Linked DNA regions of Homo sapiens. The protein of the gene in region 3 interacts with the protein of the main gene of each other region in a biochemical or structural test. Each region holds a gene or a part of one and is shown on either strand. Other genes may lie near its edges.

The links. Proteins that work in one complex are often made in the same cells at the same time.
Region 1: of the proteins of AMOT (region 3) and LATS2, one has a biochemical effect on the other in vitro, tested with the Homo sapiens proteins (3 studies listed by BioGRID).
Region 2: the proteins of AMOT (region 3) and NF2 form a complex in vitro, tested with the Homo sapiens proteins (2 studies listed by BioGRID and IntAct).

What each region holds. Positions count from the first base shown.
Region 1 is NC_000013.11:21,058,587-21,066,591, forward strand, and holds the start of LATS2 (serine/threonine-protein kinase LATS2), read right to left. Parts: upstream 3,001-8,005; 5' UTR 2,760-3,000; intron 1,820-2,759; exon of another isoform or gene 1,544-1,819; intron 1-1,543. UniProt on the Homo sapiens protein: Negative regulator of YAP1 in the Hippo signaling pathway that plays a pivotal role in organ size control and tumor suppression by restricting proliferation and promoting apoptosis.
Region 2 is NC_000022.11:29,676,609-29,683,632, forward strand, and holds part of NF2 (merlin), read left to right. Parts: intron 1-1,587; coding exon 1,588-1,715; intron 1,716-4,830; coding exon 4,831-4,993; intron 4,994-6,411; coding exon of another isoform or gene 6,412-6,447; exon of another isoform or gene 6,448-7,024. UniProt on the Homo sapiens protein: Probable regulator of the Hippo/SWH (Sav/Wts/Hpo) signaling pathway, a signaling pathway that plays a pivotal role in tumor suppression by restricting proliferation and promoting apoptosis.
Region 3 is NC_000023.11:112,774,826-112,781,849, reverse strand, and holds the end of AMOT (angiomotin), read left to right. Parts: intron 1-731; coding exon 732-964; intron 965-1,061; exon of another isoform or gene 1,062-1,132; intron 1,133-2,169; coding exon 2,170-2,853; intron 2,854-3,185; coding exon 3,186-3,283; 3' UTR 3,284-6,973; downstream 6,974-7,024.

The DNA.
Region 1 (8,005 bases), on a different chromosome or scaffold from region 3:
CACTTAAACTATTTCAAACTCGATGGAGAAGCCAGAAGAATCCCTTCCAGTTCTATAATTCAATGATTCTAGTAATTCACCTTGGTAATTTTGCAAGACAGGCTAGCCTCTGCTCAGATACCTTAAACTGCCTGAGATTTGGAAAGTTATTAAATGTTCACCAACTTATATTCAAAGGAATGCTGGTATATTCATTACACTATTATTATATTCAGTGCCTTCTATACCTGCATGAGACAAAATTTTGTGAGACACTGACTTGTTAATTACAGTTAAATAGACGTCATAAACAGTTTATACGTTCTCATTTTGGAATATTTTTTCTGTTACTACCTTATTACAACGGTTGTTACAGAAAAAAAAAAAACATACAAAGCAGCTTACCAAAAATATACAACAAGATTTAGCACAAATTTCCTAATAATCAGCCATGAGTTACTTTTTCCATGATTAAGGGAAGGCCCCTCATCTTCTAAGTTAAAATTTTAAGCAAAACACTTGTGCAAGATCACACACATTTTTGTGATTTCCCATTCAAATTTCAGTATATTTGTTTCTTATTAAAATACGGGCAAACTTTCCTTTAAAAATGTACGTATTTGTTGAATACTTTGTGAAAAGAGCTGTTCAGCTATTAATTTGAATTTTTTACCGGCCAAATGTATACTCTATGGCTTAGTAGTTAAGGTGAAATAATTTTTTTAATGCTATTACATTAAAAACACTCTTGGCTGGGTGCGGTGGCTTACGCCTGTAATCCCAGCAGTTTGGGAGGCTGAGGCGGGCGGATCACAAGGTCAGGAGATTGAGACCATCCTGGCTAATACAGCGAAACCCCGTCTCTACTAAAAATACAAAAAATTAGCCGGGCGTGGTGGCACACGCCTGTAATTCCAGCTACTCGGGAGACTGAGGTAGGAGATCGCTTGAACCCAGGAGGCGAGGTTGCAGTGAGCCGAGATCGCGCCACTGCACTCCAGCCTGGGCGACAGAGCAAGACAACGTCTCAAAAAACAACAACAACAACAACAAAAAACACTCATATCCATCCTAGAGAAGCGTGAAAATGTAAAAGTTCTTGTTCAAAATTCTTGTCAGGTGGGGCGCGGTGGCTCACGCCTGTAATCCCAGCACTCTGGGAGACGGAGGCAGGTGGATCACCTGAGGTCAGGAGTTCGAGAGCCAGCCTGGCCAACACGGCGAAACCCGTCTCTACTAAAAAATACAAAATTAGCTGGGCTGGTGGCGCGGGCCTGTAATCCCAGCTACGTGGGAGGCTAAGGCAGGAGAATCGCTCGAACCTGGGAGACGGAGGTTGCAGTGAGCCGAGATCGCGCCACTCCCCTCCAGCCTGGGAGACAGAGCGAGATCTTGTCTTAAAATAACAACATTTTTGTCAAAAAAATCTGCAAGTTAAGTTCTTTCATGGTGATCCTCGCAAAATAGCATTTCTCATCCAAAGGCCTCAGAACAGCCGCCAGCCGCCGAGCTAACTCGGGACCCTGTTACCGGCTGCTTGGCGCCCTGGTCGGGTGGGTTTTACCTTCTTCAGGGTCCATTCCTCGCCTCGCCCCCCGTTCCCAACCCTCGGGACACTGGAGACTTGCATTTCACAAACGGGTTTGCTCCAGGCCGCACTCCATCCCCGAGGGAAAGCTCCCCAGAAGTTCTGGAGTTGGGCTGAAGGATGTGATGGCAAGATGTGAATGATGTCAGAATCCCCATCTCCAGAGTCCGGCTGGGGAGCTAAGCGCAGGTGAGCTTACATCAGAAGAGAAAGCCAAACCCCCCACACGTCGCTAAACTAGGGCACGGGAATGGCGTGTTATGCAACGGCCGCCGTTCGCGTGGCCACGAAAGCGCTCCTGCGCCTCGGGCCGCGTCCCGCCAAGACCGTGAGCAAACTCGCAGAGTTGGCGCGGCAGCCGGCCGGGAGACGCCGAGCAGGGCCTGGCCGCCCGCAGCCCGGGAGGAACGGCGCCCCCAGGGTCCGGTGGCCTCTGAGGGGCTGACTGGCCCGTGAGCCGGCGGCGCGGCCGCGGGGAACGGGGTGGGAACCGCGCGGCAGTGGGTGAGGCGGCGCAGCCACCGGGGGCTGAGGGGCGGCGCGGCCTCGACTGCGGCACCGCCGTGGGTCCGTCGGCTCGCGGGACGACGGGGCGGCCGGCGGGGGCCAACAGGGCGGGCTCTGAAGGACTGATTGGCCCGTGGGACGATGGCGCGGCCGGGAGGATGGCCCCGGATCCGTGGGACCGCTGCGCCGCCGGACCGGGGGTCCCGAGGCTGTCAGGGGCGCCCGGCCGGGCGTCTAGTGAAAAGCCGATCCCCCGGAGACAGCGGAAGCAGAGGCGCGCCCGGCGCTACGGCCTTTCGGGTCTAGGACACCGCCCCCGGCCCGCGCCGCCCCTGCCCCGCCGGGATCCCGGCCGCCCCGGTCGCCGCACAACAAAGCGGCGCAGCCCCGCTGCCCCCGCCCGACGCCGGCCTCCAACTTCCCCGGCTCCTCTGGAACCGGCTCCGCGGGCTCCGTACGGCCTGGACTACGAGCCGCCGGGCGGGGGCGGCTCCGGGCGGGCGCGGACCGTGGGGGCAGGGCGCAGGGCTCCGTCCGGACAAACTTCCTCGGCCGCCCCGCCGGGCGCCCTTCCCGGAGCCTCGGCACCACAGTAGGTGCGCGGAGCCGCAGGGCTCGACCGCTTCGCGGAAACTCTCGCCACCCTCCGAGCTGCCGCCCCGACCCCAGCTCCCAGCCCCCTCACCTCCAGGGGCGCGGTCTACACCCTCGGGGGCGTCCTGGCCGGCGGCTCCCGGGCCTCTCGCGCCGGGAGACCGGGCACTGGTGGCTGGAGCTGCTGCTGGCCCCGCAGGGACGGGGGAGCCCCGGGCGGCGGCGGTGGCGTGGACGGCGACTGCTCCATCTTCCCGGGGCGCTCACGCCGCGGTTCCAAAGCGCAGACCCAAGTGGGACATTCGCTACATTGTTGGCATTCCACGGGCGTCACGTGACCCCGCCTCCCGCGTCACTCTCGGCCGCATACCAGTCCGGGCGGGGCGCCTGCGGCCCCTGCTCCTCCGCGGCCGCTCCGCCCAGCCCCGCCCGGCCGTGCTTCCTGCCTCCGGCCTCGACCGCCACCTGCCCACGGCCTCCCTGCTGGCCTGCGGTAGCTCGCCAGGGCCTCTCGGACCTATTTGACTGGCTGCTATCTGCCCCCAAACTTGAGTATTTGCCCTCTCGACTGCATTTGTATTAAAAGTTGGTAACTGTCGTTAAAGCCACTATTCTTAAGTATCTCATACCAGTCTTGGTGAAAGAAAAAAAAAAGTTAGCAGGCCTGAAGGAGCCACCAAGTTACCAACTAGTGGCTGGACACTAAAAATAGGGGCAGAAAAGGACAGACGGCTATTGGGACAGTGGAATCAAACAATTAAGAAGGACGTTTGCCAGAAGCGGTGGCTCACGCCTGTAATCCCAGCACTTTGAGAGGTCTAGGCGGGTGGATCACCTGAGGTCGGGAGTTCGAGACCAGCCTGACCAACTTGGAGAAACCCCCGTCTCTATTAAAAATACAAAATTAGCCAGGCGTGGTGGCTCATGCCTGTAATCCCAGCTCTTCGGGAGGCTGAGGCAAGAGAATCACTGGAACCCGGGAGGCGGAGGTTGCGGTGACCTGAGATCGCATCATTGCACTCCAGCCTAGGCAAGAAGAGCAAAACTCCGTCTCAAAAAAAAAAAAAAAAGAACGTCTGATGCACACCCAAATTTAACCTGATTTAATTTAATCAACCTCCCCTCCCCATGTATATTTTCTTTCTGAGAAGTATTTTATGGTGTAGGGAATAGTATAGTACCGTATATACCAGCAAGTGAGGTCGTGGGTTTTGAACAGCTTCACTATCCATTTGAGGACTGTGGATCTGGTACAGGGACAGAAGCAGGGATGGTGCAAAGATTCACAGTAGAAATAATAGACTGGAAGCCAAATCCTCAGTCTACTTCTGGCTCTCCTAACATCATACTTCCTACCACCTATATCTGTGGCAAGTGATGCTGAGGGTCAATATAGTGTTTAAAGTCAACTCGATTTCCTCTTTAATTGACAAACTCTTGTGAAATTTTTAAATTTTACTCTCATGGGAAACAGTAGTAAAGGTCATTATCTGTGCACTATTTTGACAGTCTCACCCAGCCTTCAGTCCCTGGTTCATCCTCCTCCCCTCCCTCTCTTTCAATCTCTTAAGGCCTCAGCTCTTCCAGGGAATCTTCTCAGATCTCTGTTTTCTCTCTTCTTTGGGCTCTGATAATCAAACCGTAATCCCTTCCTGCCAGCAGAAGTGTGCAAAAAAAAAAAAAAGAAACCATCATCGTGCAGCTTAGAATTCAATTTAATTTTTCGATAGTATCCTGTATGCTACCCAGATATCTTGCACAGTACTGGGAGCAAAATAAGTCTCCAGCCAATATTCTGCAATTGAGCCCTACTGGCATTACCTATGTACTTTTCCACATTTTTTCCTTTTTTTCTTAGAGACAGAGTCTCACTCCATTGCCCACGCTGGAGTGCAGTGGCACAATCATAACTTACTGCAGCCCACATCAGCCTTGAACTCCTGAGCTCAAGCCATCCTCCTGCCTCAGCCTCTAGGGTAGCTGGGAACACAGGCGCACACCACCATGCTTGGCCTTCTTTTCACTCTTAAGCTGACTATACTTTCTCCACCCCAACCCCAAGCCACATGGCTGCTAATCTTTTTTTGTTGTGTGTTTAAAGATCCTGCTCCTGCTCTGCCTTCAAAGATGTAAAAATAATTTTTAAAACACTTGTGGAATGAAAAATATTATAAAATAGATTTAATGGACCTTAAAATTTGTGCATAAAATACCTAATAAAAATGTTGCAGTTACAATGATCATTTCAGCATTGTTTGCAGTAGTGAAAAATTGAGAAAAACCCCAAATGTCCAGTCAAGGGGTAGGAAAATGAAAGGTAGATATCCAAATGATGGAATATACACAGTAGCTAAGTTAATGAACTAGCTCTGTAGTTGTAAAGGATAAATGATGGTAGAAAGAATTCAAAAGCACTGTGGAGTGAAAAAAAGCAAGTTGCAGAACTATATATATACACTGTGATACCATATTTATAAATAATCAAAATCCCACAGAACCTAAAATGATCACATACTTTATATAAGTATAGACATAGAATGCAATATCACACACACCAAATTCATGACAGCTGTTGTTTATATTAGAGGGAAGGAGGGAAATTGAGCAGAGAAAAAAAATGAAGACTTCAACTTTACAATGCTTTCTTTTATTTAAAAAACGGAAATAAAACTCAAAATCTTAAAAGTTGTTGGTTCTGGGAGGTTGGGTTCAATAATGTGTGCTATACTATTCTTTGTGCCTTTTTTAAAAAACATTAAAAATTTTAAATTTTATATATATATATGAATACAGACAAATTGGAAACAAGTTTCCAAGATAGGGGCTTGGTTGGGAAAGCTGACACGCTCACATGGAAGAATGTTGTGATTAACGATTTGTGTTTATTAACATGCAGTCATTCATTCCTTCTCATTTTTGTTTGTTGTTGTATGTTTGGGTTTTTGTTTTGTTTTCTGTTTTGTTATCGGTACCTGCTATGAACCATGTGCTAAAATTAAAAAACCCATGTTTGGGTTTTTGTTTTGTTTTGTTTCTGTTTTGTTTTGTTATTGGTACCTGCTATGAGCCATGTGCTAAAATAAATCATACTTGGGATAACATGGTAAGCAAAACCATAAGATTTATCCCCTGATGGGGTTTATAGTGTGGTAGAGGTAGAGGTGTTCAAGAAAAACACATGCTGGGCATGGTGGCTCATGCCTGTAATCCCAGCACTTTGGGAAGCTGAGATGGGTGGATCACTTGAGGCCAGGAGTTCGAGACCAGCCTAGCCAACAGAGTAAGATCCCATCTCTACTAAAAACAAAAAAAAGAAAGGAAAAACAGCAACAATATAAGTTTATTTTATATGTATATACAATAAACTATGTACACATGTATATTTTTTAAACTATTTTTAAAGCCCAGAAAATTACACAGCCAAATGTTAAAAGTGGTAGTCTCTGGATGTAGTGTAGTGATTCTGAATGGTTTTGTCTTATACTTCCTGATACTTCTATAGTAGGATAGTTAACATAATTTTTTTTCTTTTTTTCTTTTTCTTTTTTTTTTTTTGAGATGGAGTCTTGCTCTGTCGCCCAGGCTGGAATGCAATGGTGAGATATCAGCTCACTGCAACCTTGCAACCTCCATCTCCCGGGTTCAAGCAATTCTCCTGCCTCATCCTCTGGAGTAGCTGAGATTATAGGCATGCTCCACCATGCACGGCTAATTTTTGTATTTTTAGTAGAGATGGGGTTTCACCATGTTGGCCAGGCTGGTCTCGAAATCCTGACCTCAGGTGATCTGCCTGCCTTGGCCTCCCAAAGTGCTGGGATTACAGGCTTCAGCCACCATGCCTGGTCCAGAAAATGTTTTAAAGTTAATCAGTTAAATAAGCACATCTACATAATGTATCTAGCTGAGAAGAGGAGAAAAAGAGACAACACAAGACCAGCTGAGCATAGAGCGGACAGTAGTAACAAAATTGGAGTGTATAAATTAACTGACATAGTATATACATATGTGTATGTGTGTGTCCTTATTCTATACCAAGTATTGCTCTAAATTTGTATATTATATCATTTAATTCTCAAAACGACCATGTTATTCAACCCATTTTATAAAAAAGGATCCTGAAATGCAGACGGCTCAAGTAACTTGTCCAAGATCAAAGAGCAGAGATTCAGACCTTCATAGATCTAACTCCAGAGATTGGAAACACTGAATTATAATGCCCTCTCTAGATAATCTCAAGAAGTCATGAGGCTGGGCATGGTGGCTCACGCCTGTAATCCCAGCACTTTGGGAAGCTGAGGCTGGTGGATCATGAGGTCAGGAGTTCGGGACTAGCCTGGCCAAAATGGTGAAACCCTGTCTCTACTAAAAATACAAAAATTAGCTGGGCGTGGTGGCAGGCACCTGTAATCCCAGCTACTCGGGAGGCTGAGGTAGGAGAATTGCTTGAACCCAGAAGGTGGAGGTTGCAGTGAGTGGAGACCAAGCCACTGCACTCTAGCCTGGACAACAGAGCAAGACTTCATCTCAAAAAAAAAGTAAAAAAAAAGGCACATGATTACAACATACTCATAAGTAAGGAAACTGAAAACAAATTACTCCCTTATACTTCCTCTGAAAGGGGAATGGACTTTGTGGAGTGAGGAAGAGGGGAACTCAGAGACTTGTGTCTCCAGCCTCAACCAAAGCAGAGAACGATTCCAGGCCTAGCAGACACAGAGAATCCACTTGCTTGTGAGGCCTCTGCAGTTGTGAAGCCAGGATAGTGTAGGGGTTCTCTCCCTAAGGCTCCTATAGAATATCAACTATGGCTGGGTACGGTGGCTCACACCTGTAATCCCAGCACTTTGGGAGGCCGAGGCGGGCGGATCCCTTGAAGCCAGGAGTTCTAGACCAGCCTGGCCAACGTAGCGGAACCCTTTCTCTACTAAAAATACAAAAATTAACCAGGCATGGGGGTACATGCCTGTAATCCCAGCTACTCAGGAGACTGAGGCACGAGAATCGCTTGAGCCCAGGAAGTGGAGGTTGCAGTGAGCCGAAATGGCGCCACTGCACTCCAGCCTGGGCGACAGAGCCAGACTCTATCTCAAAATAAAATAAAATAAAATCTGCCTAACTACAGAAGAATGTTCTCTATGGGCAGTAGCATAAAAATAGAATAGGATCAGATCATGCAAGACCCAGACAACCGAGAAGAAAACGGAACATCGACTTGTTTCATTTGTTTTAGAGTCGTTTTATATCCATATACAGTAGTTTATGTCCTTAACTAAATTATGCATTCCTTAAGAACAGAGAAGATATTCTCCCCCAAAAACCATATGTAAAGAACATTTT
Region 2 (7,024 bases), on a different chromosome or scaffold from region 3:
ATTGTAATTTATTTAACCAGTCCCTCATGGATGAGTATTTAGTCTGTTTTCTTTTGCAATTTTGAACAAAATGACACTGAACATCCCTGAACACAAATCTTGACACACACACGTGGATATATTGGTAGAATAAATTCTTATAATAGAACTGTGGGGTCAAATTTTCGATTTTGATACTCTCCAAAGAAGTCATACCAGTTCATGCTCTCACTAGTGGTGCAGCAACTAGTACGCGTTTTTGCTGAAAATTTTTATGATGTGTAACATACACATAGAGAAGTGCCCAAATTACAACTGTACAGTTTGAAGAATTTTCACAAACTGAACATACCCATGTACCCAGCACCCAGATCAGAAAACAGGACATCCCTGGCACCCAAGGAGCCTTCTCTCAGCACCCTTGCAGACGGTCTGCCTCAGGCCTTGAGAATGTCTCAAATGAATGTTCCAAGCCTCTGCTCTTTCCCAGACACTGTCCTAGACTCAATACGGGATCCAAGGATGAAAAAGAGGCAGATTGTTTGCAGGAAACTTGCAAATAGTAGAAAGAAGATACAGCCAAAAAGAAATCTTTTACAGGGTGGAATCGCAGAAGAACCATTAGAGAACCGTAAACACAGCGTTAAGGGACAGCAAAGAAAAGGGTTGCCGGCTGGCTGGGAGGGGCTAGAAAGGCTTTGGTGAGAGATCGTGGTGTTTGAGAAGGGCCTTGAAAGAGGGATGGAGCATAGGGAGGAGAAATGGGATAGGCAGGGGTACAGAGATGGGAAGGCAGTAGTCCAGGGGATAATAAACAATACTGTCTGTGACTTAGTAGGGCAAATAGTAGGAGAAGCCGGGAAGCTAGATTGGGGTCCTCTTTAGATGACCCTTTGTGCTGGGATGAAAGTCCAAAAAAAAAAAAAACTACACCACCCCTGCTTCAGGCCCTACTCCGGTTCCATTGTCCAAGCCCAAGCCCCTCGGTGGGCCGGTGGGGAGCCCTTTGTGGTGGTGCCCATCTCCCACCCCACCTCTCCACACTGCATGGCAGACTCCTGGCACCCTCACTGGGCACTGCCCCACCCATTGCCATACTTCCCGTCCGGCAGACCTTCTCCTGGCACTGCCTTGGATCCCAGCAAAAGCAGCATCTCTTCTAGCCTCTGTTCGCTCCCTGGCTACAGTGTTTACCTTTTTTAACAGTGATGATCTGTGAACACATCTATTTCCTGAACAAGACTTTCAGCTGCTCAAAGCCAAGGATGCTGTCTTGTTTTCTGCATCTCCAGCCCCTTGCACAGGGCCTGGGAGTTTCCTAAATGAAAAAGCGAGTGGGAGTTTGTGTTTGATTCAGCTGAGCATGAAGAACGGTTAGAGATTTGAGGGATGATTTTCCTGGATTTGTAGTCTTTGATATTGTTTACCTGGCAGTGGCAAATGTGGAGGGAGTGAAGTGGAGGGATGGGGACTCGTGGTGGCATTGGGAGGTGGGACCCGAGTTGTGCCCATTGCCTCTGTGGCTGCTGGAGGATCGGTTGTCAACACAGTAGTGTCCTTCTGTGCTTGTATGACCCAAGCTCCTAATCCGAAATTTCTCATTAACAGCCCATGAACCCAATTCCAGCACCGTTGCCTCCTGACATACCAAGCTTCAACCTCATTGGTGACAGCCTGTCTTTCGACTTCAAAGATACTGACATGAAGCGGCTTTCCATGGAGATAGAGAAAGAAAAGTATGTAGCCCCCTGTGCCCTGCTGTGGGCAGCTGTGAACTAGACTGAGTGATTGGGGCCTTGGGAAGCTGGGGCAGAGGTGAGAGGTCGCTGCAGCAGCCTGTCATTACTCCTGCAAAGGTTTGCTCTGCTCTTACACCCTGGAGGAAGAATTTCCTTAATCAGAAATTAAGGACAACAGATCAGCATTCATTCTGAACGAATAAAAATAACAATTTTTATCCAGGATAAAAATAACACTTGACTGGTGAGCTGGAGTTTTTGGTGGCTCTAAGCCTCACCTAAAGTGTAGGACTGGGTTGTTAGCATCTCTGAGTCAGTTCAACTGCTGTTATACTACTGGACTGTAGTCACCTCCTAGTTGTGTTCTCCAGCAACTGGGATCTGTGGTGGTTCCCATGTCTAGAACAAACAAAGGTGAGAGAAGAGACTCAGGCTCGAGGCTAAGGAAAGCTGACAGCTGGTGGGGCCACTTTGCTGCAGTGGGTGGCACTGGGCAGGGCCCCAGCATGGCCTGATCATGGCAGCAATTGCTGAGCTGCCCTCCGTCTTCCCTTTATTGTGGGTAGAAGTGGATCAGAGATGGAAAGGAAAGGATCCCCACTGCAGAGGAAATCTAAGCGAGGGCCCCTAGTTCCCAGAGCTAGCGGTAAGTTGGTTAACTGCTGCTGCTTGCTAGAGGACAACCACAGTAGCTACCATGCATTGAGTGCCTGTGTGTCAGGGGTTTTGGCTTTTGTCTCATTTAATTCCTGCTAACTTACAAACATCAAAATGACATCAAAGGTAGGTTTTCATGTTCCCATTTTATAAGTGAGAACTCAGATTTAGAGAGTTTAGTGAACTCCACCAGCATCCCACAGCTGATGCAGAGGGGTTGAAACCCCTCACCCATCTGACTCTGCAGCCCATGTGCTTTTACCATGGGTGGTATCCTCAGGAAAACCCTTTGGGGAAAGTGTCTCCATGGAGTCCAGTATGGGCAACCAGAACCCAGGCTGTTTTTCTTTGGGCTCTCACACTGAGGGTATAGCTAAGTAGCCAATGAACCAGAGCCTCTAGCTGTCATATCTGCTGTCCATGTTCCTTTCACCATTATCCAGACATATACATTTATGTGGTTGGGATCCGGGATCAGGGTGAAGCTGTTCTGTGTCTGCTATTTTATAGTTTGTATTTTGTTACTATCTTAGTTTGTTTTGGCTACTGTAACAAAATACCAGAGGCTGGGTAGCTTATAAACAACAGAAATTTATTTCTTGGCCAGGCACAGTGGCTCATGCCTGTAATTCCAGCACTTTGGGAGTCCAAGGGGGGCAGATCTCTTGAGCCAGGAGTTCAAGACCAGCCTGGGCAACATGGCAAAACCCCATTTCTACTAAGAATACAAAAATTAGCTGGGTGTGGTGGCACATGCCTGTGGTCCCAGCTACTCGGGAGGCTGAGGTGGGAGGATTGCTTGAGCCTGGGAGGCAGAGGTTGCAGTGAGCCCAGATTGCACCACTGCACTCCAGCCTGGGCAACAGAGAGACACCCTGTCTCAAAAAAAAAAAAAAGAAAAGAAAGAAATTGATTTCTCACAGTTTGGGAGGCTGAGAAGGCCAAGATCAAGGCACGGGCAGAGGTGGAGTCTAGTGAGGGCATTCTTGCTGGTTCATAATCAGCCCCTTTTTGCTGCATGCTCACCCAGTGGAAGGGATGAGGGGTCTCTCTGGAGTCTCTTTTATAAGGGCACTAATCCCATTCATGAGGCTCTACCCTCATGACTGCCCAAAGGCCCCACCTCCTGACACTTTTTTTTTTTTTGAGATGGAGTCTCACTCCATCGCCCAGGCTGGAGTGCAGTGGTGCGATCTCGGCTCACTGTAACCTCCACCTCCTGGGTGCAAGCGATTCTCCTGCCTCAGCCTCCTGAGTAGCTGGGATTACAGGCGCATGCTATCACGCCCAGCTAACTTTTGTATTTTTAGTAGAGATGGGGTTTCACCATGTTGGTCAGGCTGGTCTCGAACTCCTGACCTCATGATCCGCCCACCTTGGCCTCCCAAAGTGTTGGGATTACAGGCGTGAGCCACCACACCCAGCCGGTGATTAGGTTTCCACATATGAATTTTGAAGACACGAACATTCAGACCATAGCACTTCTTACCCTTGCACATATTGGCAGAGTCTCTATACTAACCATGGCAATCCCTATGGAGTGTTTTTGGTATTTGTATTGCATGGTTTTTCTGGCCATGCCTTGTAGTTGGACACTTTGTGGGTGGTTTCCAGATTTTCACCATCATAGATGCTGTCACTCAGTGTTATCTGTTCTCAGGTGAGGGTGGGGATCTTTTCTTCCTTGCGTTGGGTGAGCTTCTGAGTGAGCTTCTGTCATCTTTAGATGAAGTCTCAGAACAAGTGGGAATGTGGATGTGGCCTATCAAAAGAGATCACGTGAAGCTGGGCGCTGTGGCTTATGCCTATAATCCCAGCCCTTTGAGACCAGGGGTTCAAAGCCAGCCTGGGCAGCATAGCAAGATCCTATAAAAAAAAAAAAGAGTTTACTTGAATTACTGCTCCAAGAAGGGTTGAGACAAGGAGATTGTTCTGGGTTCCCAGGAAGCTTGTTTCACGTATGTTTTTTTTTTGTACAGAACGAAAAGCTGTCCATGAGAGCTGGTATTTGTAGAGCCCCCTATGAGAATTTACCAAGGGCTTTTCTACTCTTTCTTTTTCTTTCCTTTTCTTTTTTTTTTTTTAAAAATAGAGACAGGGTCTTGCTATGTTTCCCAAGCTGGTCTCCAACTCCTGGGCTCAAGCAATCCTCCTGCCTCAGCCACCCAAAGTACTGGGATTACAGGTGGAGCCACCGTGCCTGGCCTCCTACACTGTTTTATTTAATCCTAACCACGGCCCTGTGATCATTATCCCAATTTTAATGATGAGGAAACATTCATAGCATTTAAGTGACCAGCCCAAGCTCCCATGGCCTGTGAGTGGCCAAGTAGAGACGTGAACCCCAGGCCTCAAACCCTAGATCGCACACCAAGCAGCTTGTGGGCCGCAGAGCACCTGAGCCGTGTCTCACTGTCTGCCCAAGCCCTGATGCATGATACCCTCTTGCCGGCAGAGTGGAATACATGGAAAAGAGCAAGCATCTGCAGGAGCAGCTCAATGAACTCAAGACAGAAATCGAGGCCTTGAAACTGAAAGAGAGGGAGACAGCTCTGGATATTCTGCACAATGAGAACTCCGACAGGGGTGGCAGCAGCAAGCACAATACCATTAAAAAGGTACCCAGGGTCTCTTTCTTGTATTTTGCTGATCAGGACCATCATTAATGAAATGTGCGGTTGGCATCTGGTTTCCTCAGTAGCCAAGTCACTAGACTATTGGCATCTTTTGTATGTACTTAGTTGAGGAAATTTTTTAACTTATGCCAGAAAGGGAATTTAATCTGCCAATGACTATGAACCCATTGGCTGGATGGAAGTTGAGCTTGTGTTAAAAGCTCTGATGTAATGAACCCCTGTTACAGGGTGGATTTTGAGCCCTCATTTAGCAGTAAAGCATAATGCCCTTTTAAGCCAAGGGGTGTTATACCCAGGGAGCTGCCTTACTTTATGAGAAAGCAGAATGAAATGGAGGCTATTGAGAATGGACTTTCCCTCTAGTCTTGTGGTGTCTTTAAGTGGCAAGGACTATAAAACCAAACTGAATTTTTAACTTTTTTCATACTTAAAAGGAAGTGTCTAGGAAAGAACCTCTTTGTTTTAAAAGAGAAGACTTTATTACTTTGCAAATGGTTTCATATCTTTCTCTACTGGTATTTTGAGCTTTCAGCATTGTCGAGATTCAGAAGCTAAATTCCATACTAATTATCAGCCCAAGAGCATACCTCTCTCATTTGGGCCAAGCAGAAGGGTCCTCTCATACCAAATAATGCTCTGCTCTTAACTGATAGCCCAGGACCAGGTTAACACCTATAAAATAGGTGTTATTAAGATAAGACTGTCCATTGAGTTTAGGTGATACTGATACAGTTAATTTTTTATTCTTTACCTCAGTCTTTAAAATAGGCTTCCAGTTTTATGGACTGTCTCTGTTTTTAGTGGTTAAGCTGTATCTGAAAACTCCAGGGGATCTGTTTCTGCCTGCCTTCGTTGTTGGGTACAGTAGGCAGCCCTGACTTCTACCTCTCGACTCCAGTCACAACTGGCACCGGGTAGAGAATTCCTTTTAATAGTGCAACCTAGAAGGAAAGGCATTTCCACATTCCACATTCTTCTTTCCTCTGGCTTCTGTAATTTACTGGGCTTCCCTTCCAAAACAAAATTATTAAACAGTAAAGGGGAGTTCAAGGGAGGCCTCGGTCATTAAGGAAAGAGGTAAAACGATGGCTGAGCCAGTGAGCCAGTCAGCCCTTAAATGAACTGCCTCAGACACCCCATCTCACCCCTTACCCCCAGCCTTGTCATCTGGGTCCCAGGAACAGTCTCACCATTTCCACTGCTGCTGCAATGAGCAGTGCCCTCAGCCACAGAAACCTGCAGTGTGAGAGCTGGAGAGACCCCGTTCCAAGCCATTAAAACAAACAAAATCACTCATCACGATTTCAGGCCTATCCAAGCATTTTGCAGATGGCACTTATGGCATTGTTGATATCACAGGGTATGTTTTTGTTTTTCTTCATTTTATTTTGCTGGTTTAGCCTCAAGCCCAAGGCAGAAGACCTATCTGCATTTGAGCCCTCAAAGTAGGTTGTTCCCAGGTACTCTCTATGTGGTGATGGTGCTGCCCTCTGTGATACTAACCCGTGCATGAGCTTGCCTGTCTCTGTCCTCGGGCCACACTGAGCCCTTACGAGGGCAGGTGGTGCCTGGGTACTGGCCGCAGCATGCTTTGAGTCTAAAAGTAGGCACCCACCCTGTGAAGCCAGACCAGCCTCCAGGGCCCCAGAAGACTGCCTCGTTCCGAAGAGCATGTCATGGGGCTGTAGGACCAGCCATTCTTCCCATCTCGGGTCATTGTTGGGCTGGGGAAGGTTATGGCTTCTTGTCCAGTCAGGTGTGTCTAAAAGTCCTTTGTCTTGGTGGCATACTCCTAGCATGGAAATGGGGTCAATCTGGGCACTTTGGAGACTGGTGTGTTTAACTCAAGATCAAGACCTTTTATGCGTTGACAGCCTCTCAAGACCCATGGTCACACCTGGCAGCTTCTGGTAGTGGGGCAAAAGGGTTGCTTGTGCTGGCTCATTTTCCTTTAGAGCTTTCCCTTTCTGCACACATCCCTTTTCTTTTCAAATAAAGCAAACCCAGAGCACA
Region 3 (7,024 bases):
TTATAAACACATGATCATTTACTTACTACCTGCAGGTTGTCGCTCATTCATAGATCTCATCTTCTCACTGAGTAAATTGTTTCCATTGACTGAGATTCTTCACTACAGCACCTAGTACATCAGTTCATTCTCTCATATTCAGCCTTTTTTTTCACTGGTACTTTATTGTGACTTACTAAGATTTAAGCAACAGCTCCTGGATGCTCTGCTGTATCCATTTGGGTGTGCAGAAAAAAGAAAAAACATGTTTTAAAAACTGTAGCACACCATCCCTTGTTTTCCAACTCAGAACTAACTAGATCAGCCTTTAGTCGAAAAGATAATGGGAGCTCCACGTAGTCATGTAGTCAATTAGACCAAAATGTGGAGGTAGCAAGAAGGTTTTTTTTTTTTTTTTTTTTTTTTTGAGATGGAGTCAGTCTTGCTCTGTCACCCAGGCTGGAGTGCAGTGGCACTATCTTGGCTCACTGCAACCTCCGCCTCCCAAGTTAAAGTGATTCTCCTGCCTCGGCCTCCCGAGTAGCTGGGACTATAGGCGCCTGCCACCACACCCAGCTAATTTTTGTGTTTTTAGTAGAGACAGGGTTTCACCATGTTGGCCAGGCTGGTCTCGAACTCCTGACTTTGCAATCCGCCCACCTCGGCCTCCCAAAATGCTGGGATTACAGGCGTAAGCCACCGCGCCCAGCCCACAACAAGGTCTTTATATGTTCTTTGCCTTTGGCTCCTAGGATTAAGACCCTCCATGCCCAGATTATTGAGAAGGATGCCATGATCAAAGTACTCCAGCAGCGTTCCCGGAAGGAGCCGAGCAAGACAGAGCAGCTGTCGTGCATGCGGCCAGCGAAGTCTCTGATGTCCATTTCCAATGCTGGATCAGGCTTGCTCTCCCACTCATCCACCCTGACTGGCTCCCCCATCATGGAAGAAAAGCGAGACGACAAGAGCTGGAAGGGGAGCCTAGGTAATGACAGTAAATAAGGAAGATTATAGTCACGTGTTCAAAGAGAGCCCTGAGATAAGCACCCATGCTTAAGGAAAAGGGATGATGGTCCAGGTTCTAGAGAGGAAGGTGTACCAGGGTTTTGGAGTTTTTTTTTCCTCCTGAGACCCTAGTTCCACATTCTGGAGCTCCTCCACACTTTGAAGTCTCCCGGTGAGAATACCGATTGAGGCCAAGGCTTAGAGGACAAGAATCTTGAGTTTCATTTGGGTGTCAAGGAAGATAACTCTAATTTCCTCTAAACTATTCTCAGATTTGGCCTTTGCCATGTGGCACCTTTATCTTTCTCCAAAGCCCATGTGGCCTTTGTGTCGTTCCAAATGTCAAAATTCCGGCATTTCTGTGTTCCTTCCTCCTCTATAATAGGAGAACCCAGAGTTTTAGTTACACTAAATCGTTTGGGTAGCAGGTTTTGTTCCCACAGTGTTGTGAGATGAGAACAGAATGTACTTTTTCATTCCGTTCCTGTCCATTCCCTCCCCTCTAATCAAAACCCCAGACATATTGTGGATACCACGAGGCACATTTTTAGAGCCCGAGGAAGGAAGCTTATATATATTTTTATTTTAACCCTTTTTGTTGCTGTTAATTCCTTTCTTGGTCCTCTGATACTTGTAATATCTTTTGGTTAGAATAAGCATTTTGGGGACTATGGTCATGGTGAGAACCTCAGATCACACAATTATTACCACACTCAATCTGTGTCAACAGACTTCTTCCCCAGATCCTTTCTTGCTCCCTGGTAACGTGTGGTAATGGTTTATAAGTGGAGCCGAGTAGGAGCATTCTGACAACTTGGTGGAACCCAATCACCATTGGAAAAATAAATCAAAACAGATACCCAGGTCACTTACAGGCTTAATATGTTGTGCCAGGTGATGGATGAGGACCAGAAGGGATCCTCGAAGTCTGTAGGAAACTTTTAGCCATGGTTGGAGGAGCCTCACACACTGATTTCTGGGTTCCCTGGAGGCAAAAATAAATAACTTAGACTATTCTAAATTATTTAATATTTAAAAATAATAATATTTTAAATATTTAAATAATATTTACTTATTTAAAAATAAATAAATTTCTTCTGAAATTTGAATGGGAGAACAGGTAATTAGATGTCTGGATTTGAATCACCTATTGTTTTCTAACATCTGTTCCTCTTTCATTTGTAGGCATTCTCCTGGGTGGAGACTACCGTGCTGAATATGTCCCTTCCACACCCTCGCCTGTGCCACCCTCGACTCCCCTGCTCTCGGCTCACTCCAAGACAGGCAGCCGAGACTGCAGTACCCAAACTGAACGTGGGACGGAATCGAACAAAACTGCAGCTGTTGCTCCCATCTCTGTTCCTGCTCCAGTTGCTGCTGCCGCCACTGCTGCCGCCATCACTGCCACTGCTGCCACCATCACCACCACCATGGTAGCTGCTGCTCCAGTTGCTGTTGCTGCTGCTGCTGCTCCAGCTGCTGCTGCTGCCCCGTCTCCAGCCACTGCCGCTGCTACTGCTGCTGCTGTTTCTCCAGCTGCTGCTGGTCAGATTCCAGCTGCTGCCTCTGTTGCCTCAGCTGCTGCCGTTGCTCCTTCTGCTGCTGCTGCTGCTGCTGTTCAGGTTGCTCCAGCTGCTCCGGCTCCAGTTCCAGCTCCGGCTCTGGTTCCGGTTCCAGCTCCAGCAGCGGCTCAGGCTTCTGCTCCTGCTCAGACTCAGGCACCAACTTCAGCTCCGGCTGTGGCTCCAACTCCAGCTCCAACTCCAACTCCAGCTGTGGCTCAGGCTGAGGTTCCTGCAAGTCCAGCTACCGGTCCTGGACCACATCGTTTGTCTATACCAAGTTTGACCTGCAATCCAGACAAAACAGGTAATTATTCCCTTTAGCAGGTAGGTTTTGGTTTAGTTCTGCTCTCAAATACAGATTTATTTCTTGTTGTCTGATGTCTGGGCAGAGTTATCATTTGGACTGAGTTTTTCACGTTCTAAAGGAGAGAGAAGAGAGTCTGTAAATGACTTCTCATCCACCAAGATGGGAACAGGCATGAGTAGAGGCCATTATCTTAGCAGAAGTAAATGAGGGAGGTGGCAGGCAAGTCTCACTTTGCCATTGGCTTCATGAGGGCTCTGATGGTGTCTGGTTCTAGAAATATGGGTTTTTTCTTCATCCCTAAGTGTTTTCTAACCCTTATTTCCATTTAGATGGGCCTGTGTTCCACTCCAATACTCTGGAAAGAAAAACTCCCATTCAGATCCTGGGACAAGAGCCTGATGCAGAGATGGTGGAATATCTCATCTAAACGGCCAAATCAAGAGCTGCAGATTATCAGCAAAAATGCTTTTAATCATTTTCCCCCTTTTATTGGTTCTTGTTTTGAGGGTGAGGACAAGGGTTGTGGGGAGGGGATGTTTTTTAACAGGACTTTTTATTGGAACAATGTACTACTTGAGTAATACCATGTGAACACCAGTCTATTTTGGTATGCTTAGGGAGTACCTCTAAAGACAGATTAATCAGAATGTGCTCTAAAGCTTATTGTTTGAATTTATACGAATACTGGGACTGTTAACAGGTGGCTATACATCGACGTTTTCAATGTGCTTAAATTTGTTTAAATTTTCCATATTCTAGATCATTTTTTATTGAAGAGCACAGTATGTGTGGAAGACAGTGTATAACACGTAGTTTGGAAGTGGGAAGCTAGAGAGAATTGAGTGTGTGCTGTTTTGTATAGTTACTATCCTGTGCAGCAGCTGGAGAAAGCACTCACCTCAGGCTTACAAAAGGGAATAGTTTCAGGAGCTATGTAAGCTGGAAAAAAGGTAGGGAGTTTTGGGGTGCAGAAGGGTACTGGAGCTAATTTTTTCTTCCAGTTTCCCAGCTACCCTGCCCCAGGGAATTGTGTTTGTCTTCATTTCAGTGGTGCTTTGGAAATGGATTCTTTTGGTTCCCTCCTGGAGGTTCATACATTCATATATATGCTCTGGAGTAATTTATGCATTTGGATAATTAATATATTGCTTTCAGATGCTGGGAGAGTACATTAACTGAGTGATGCGCAACTTCCTCTCTCTTAGGGAATTAGACCATCAGAGGCCTTGATGGAGAGTTGCATGGGGTGCTATATGCAGACTTCCATGGTTTGTGTGTAGCCATGAACACAGCTTGCTTGCATTTAGTAAGACCAATCAGCTTAGTGTTTATTTCTTCTACAGCACAGATTCACTGGCTGGGTCTCCAGTCTCAAATTGCCAATCATTTGCAAAGTGAGGAAGGATCTTTGTTGACAGGTTGAATGCTTTGAATTTCTGGTGACTACTTTGAAATAACTTGTTTTGTTTGTCAAATTCTAAGCATATGTCTTAAAAGGCATTTTTGACTATCACCTCCAAGGGAATAGCTTGAGAAACCCAAAGTACTATGCTGCAGTCGGGGGAGAGGTGGATTGCAGCAGTATCCTCAACTACCTCTTCTCACTGTCAGTGACACCATCTTGGAATACCTTTGGGAAGCAGCAGGAAATGTGCATGTGGGTAGAGATCAAAGGAGGCAATGGCTCCAAGCCTTGCCATAGGGCTGCCTCCAAGGACACAGAAGGATGCCAGTTGCCACAGGTCCCTGCCCTGTGTCACCTGTCTGCCCTTCATTAAGGTGAGAAATCTGCAGATAGCATCATTAAGATCAGTTTTAAGGGGTATAGGGAGGGTGAGGGAAGTGGGGGGTGTTAGGTAAGGGTTGGGGGTAGAGGTTTTGGGATGTCTTAGTTAGAAACCAGATTAATAGAAGAGTAGGCCTGATATATTACATCATGAGCCATAGTGGTGGGAAAGAACTTTAGCAATATAGCCCTACCTCCTCATTTTAGTGATGAGGAATCTGAGAACTGGAGAGGTTCAGTGACTTTTTGAAAGTCATACAACACAGCTAACCATTATGCCAATCACCATGCTTATTTTGGGAAACTCTTTATCTTTTTTAAATTCCATTTTATGAAAAGGCATCTTCATGGTCCAGGGAATATGTATCTTGTAAAATGTACCTGGTTGGAGTAGCTTGTCCAGTCTTGACAAACTACTGAATTTCTGTCTTGCCTCTCCTTCAGTGCCTTTTAAAAGGTTTTCCCTTTTCTGATCTGCATTTCAACATAGAGTCACATAAATGTCCCCCTGAGAAACCAATCCCACTTCTTTCTAGGAGATTGGGTATCTTAGATAATCTTTTGGGGTTCCTCTGTGAGTATAGGAATGGTATCCTTCCTAATTATCTTCCAAAGGAATTATTTTGTGTGTGTGCCTGTGTGTGTGTAGAGACATAAAGGAGGGTGATGTGATTTTCAGCTAGTCCTTTCACATTTTCAATAATGAGGTAATCATGTTACATACACATTAGTCCTCAGTTATAAAGTGAATCTCAGATAGAAATTAAAAGTGCAGTTGTGTTAAGACTCTTTCATACTACCCTTTAGTCATAAGGAGAAAAAAACACTCAAATAGTAGAAGCAGCAAGTAGCAAACTTCAGGAGAGCTACTTTCTATCCAAATAATTTAAAAAACACTTTTCACCTACTCCTTTCATGGTTATAACACATTGGCAGACTTTTTGCTGGCTCTGGGAGCCATGATTTTAATCACATTCTGCAAGGTGACAAATGTCATACATTCCACATTGTGTGGTAGCCATCTCTTTAGACTCATGTGTTTTGGGGAAAGGAAGAAGTTCTTGGCTGAGTACTATTTTGAACTTTCCAGAACCCTCTCACACCAGAGACAGTTCTTCTCTGTTCAGTTTCCAATCCCCGATAATTTGCTAAAATAACATTGTACATCCAAGAGAGGGAAGAAGAGTATGTCAGTATATTATGCAGAAGATAGATACAGCCTTTTCAGAAGATCTCCACTAGTTTTTGTTCCAAAAATTCAAGTTTATGGGAGAAATCTCAATTAGCCACCTTTTCACAGTTGTGTGGATATAACATTTGGGGGATCTTTCTGGACTCCTACCTATCTGTGCATTTTACCGGCACCTCAGGAAAGGAGGGTGACCAGGTTGTCTTAGCTTGTACTGCTTGGTGATCTCTGAGGACCTTCTAATTCAGTTGTACCCCAGTGTTCCATGTATAGAAAAACTTCATTAGAACAAACTTTACTTGATATGAAACTCCTATTAACAGTCTTTTTTTGAAATAAAAAGTAGCTTGAGCTTTCTTTTAAAATCATGTATCTTGATTGTTGATTTAATGAAGGATTTCCTTTTAATGCTGCTTTTGAGCTTCAAGGTAATAGGACAGCAGGAACCTAAAATATCTGCCATCATCTGCCATAGGAAAGATACCCAGAGACCCATCATGTTCTCTTTTTGTTGTTACACTGTTGGGTGGGTATAACAATTGGAAAATGAACAAACTGATTGATTGTGCAAACTACTTTTTATGACAAGCCTAAACCCTCATAATGCGGCAGCTTAAAGTGTATACATATGCACTAACTTTGATCAATTATATTCTCATATCTGTTAGCTACACAGTCTCCTATTATCTCAATTGCTTATGTGCATATGGAATATGTTACTTAAAACGTGTGCATTCTTACTGAAAATGTTTTCAAAGGAAGGTATCAGCTGTGGGCTAATTGCCACCAATTTCAGCCTGCCACGATTCTTGGAAATATGTCTTCCAAGTGCCATCCATCATCAGTAGGACAAGTGTCGGGAGTTTGTTTATTTTTTTCCAGTAGCAACGATGGGTTACATGGAGCCATGAAACCTCCTTCTGGCCTCCCTTGTGATTAATGGCATGTGTTTGTAAAATGGATAGCTGGGGTTGGCAGATGGCTAGAGAAGAATCGCCTTTGGTTTAAAATGTATGTGGTCCCCTAATGATTGTGACCCCATTCTGTAATCAACTGAGCTAGTTCCAATAAAGTTAAGCAGGTTTAAATCCACTTTGTGCCTATCTTTTCACTGACAATAAAGTTAGCTATTTTAAAATGCAGTACCGTGTGGAAAATGCTTTGGTGTTTACCCGACAGAGGCTTTATTTGTG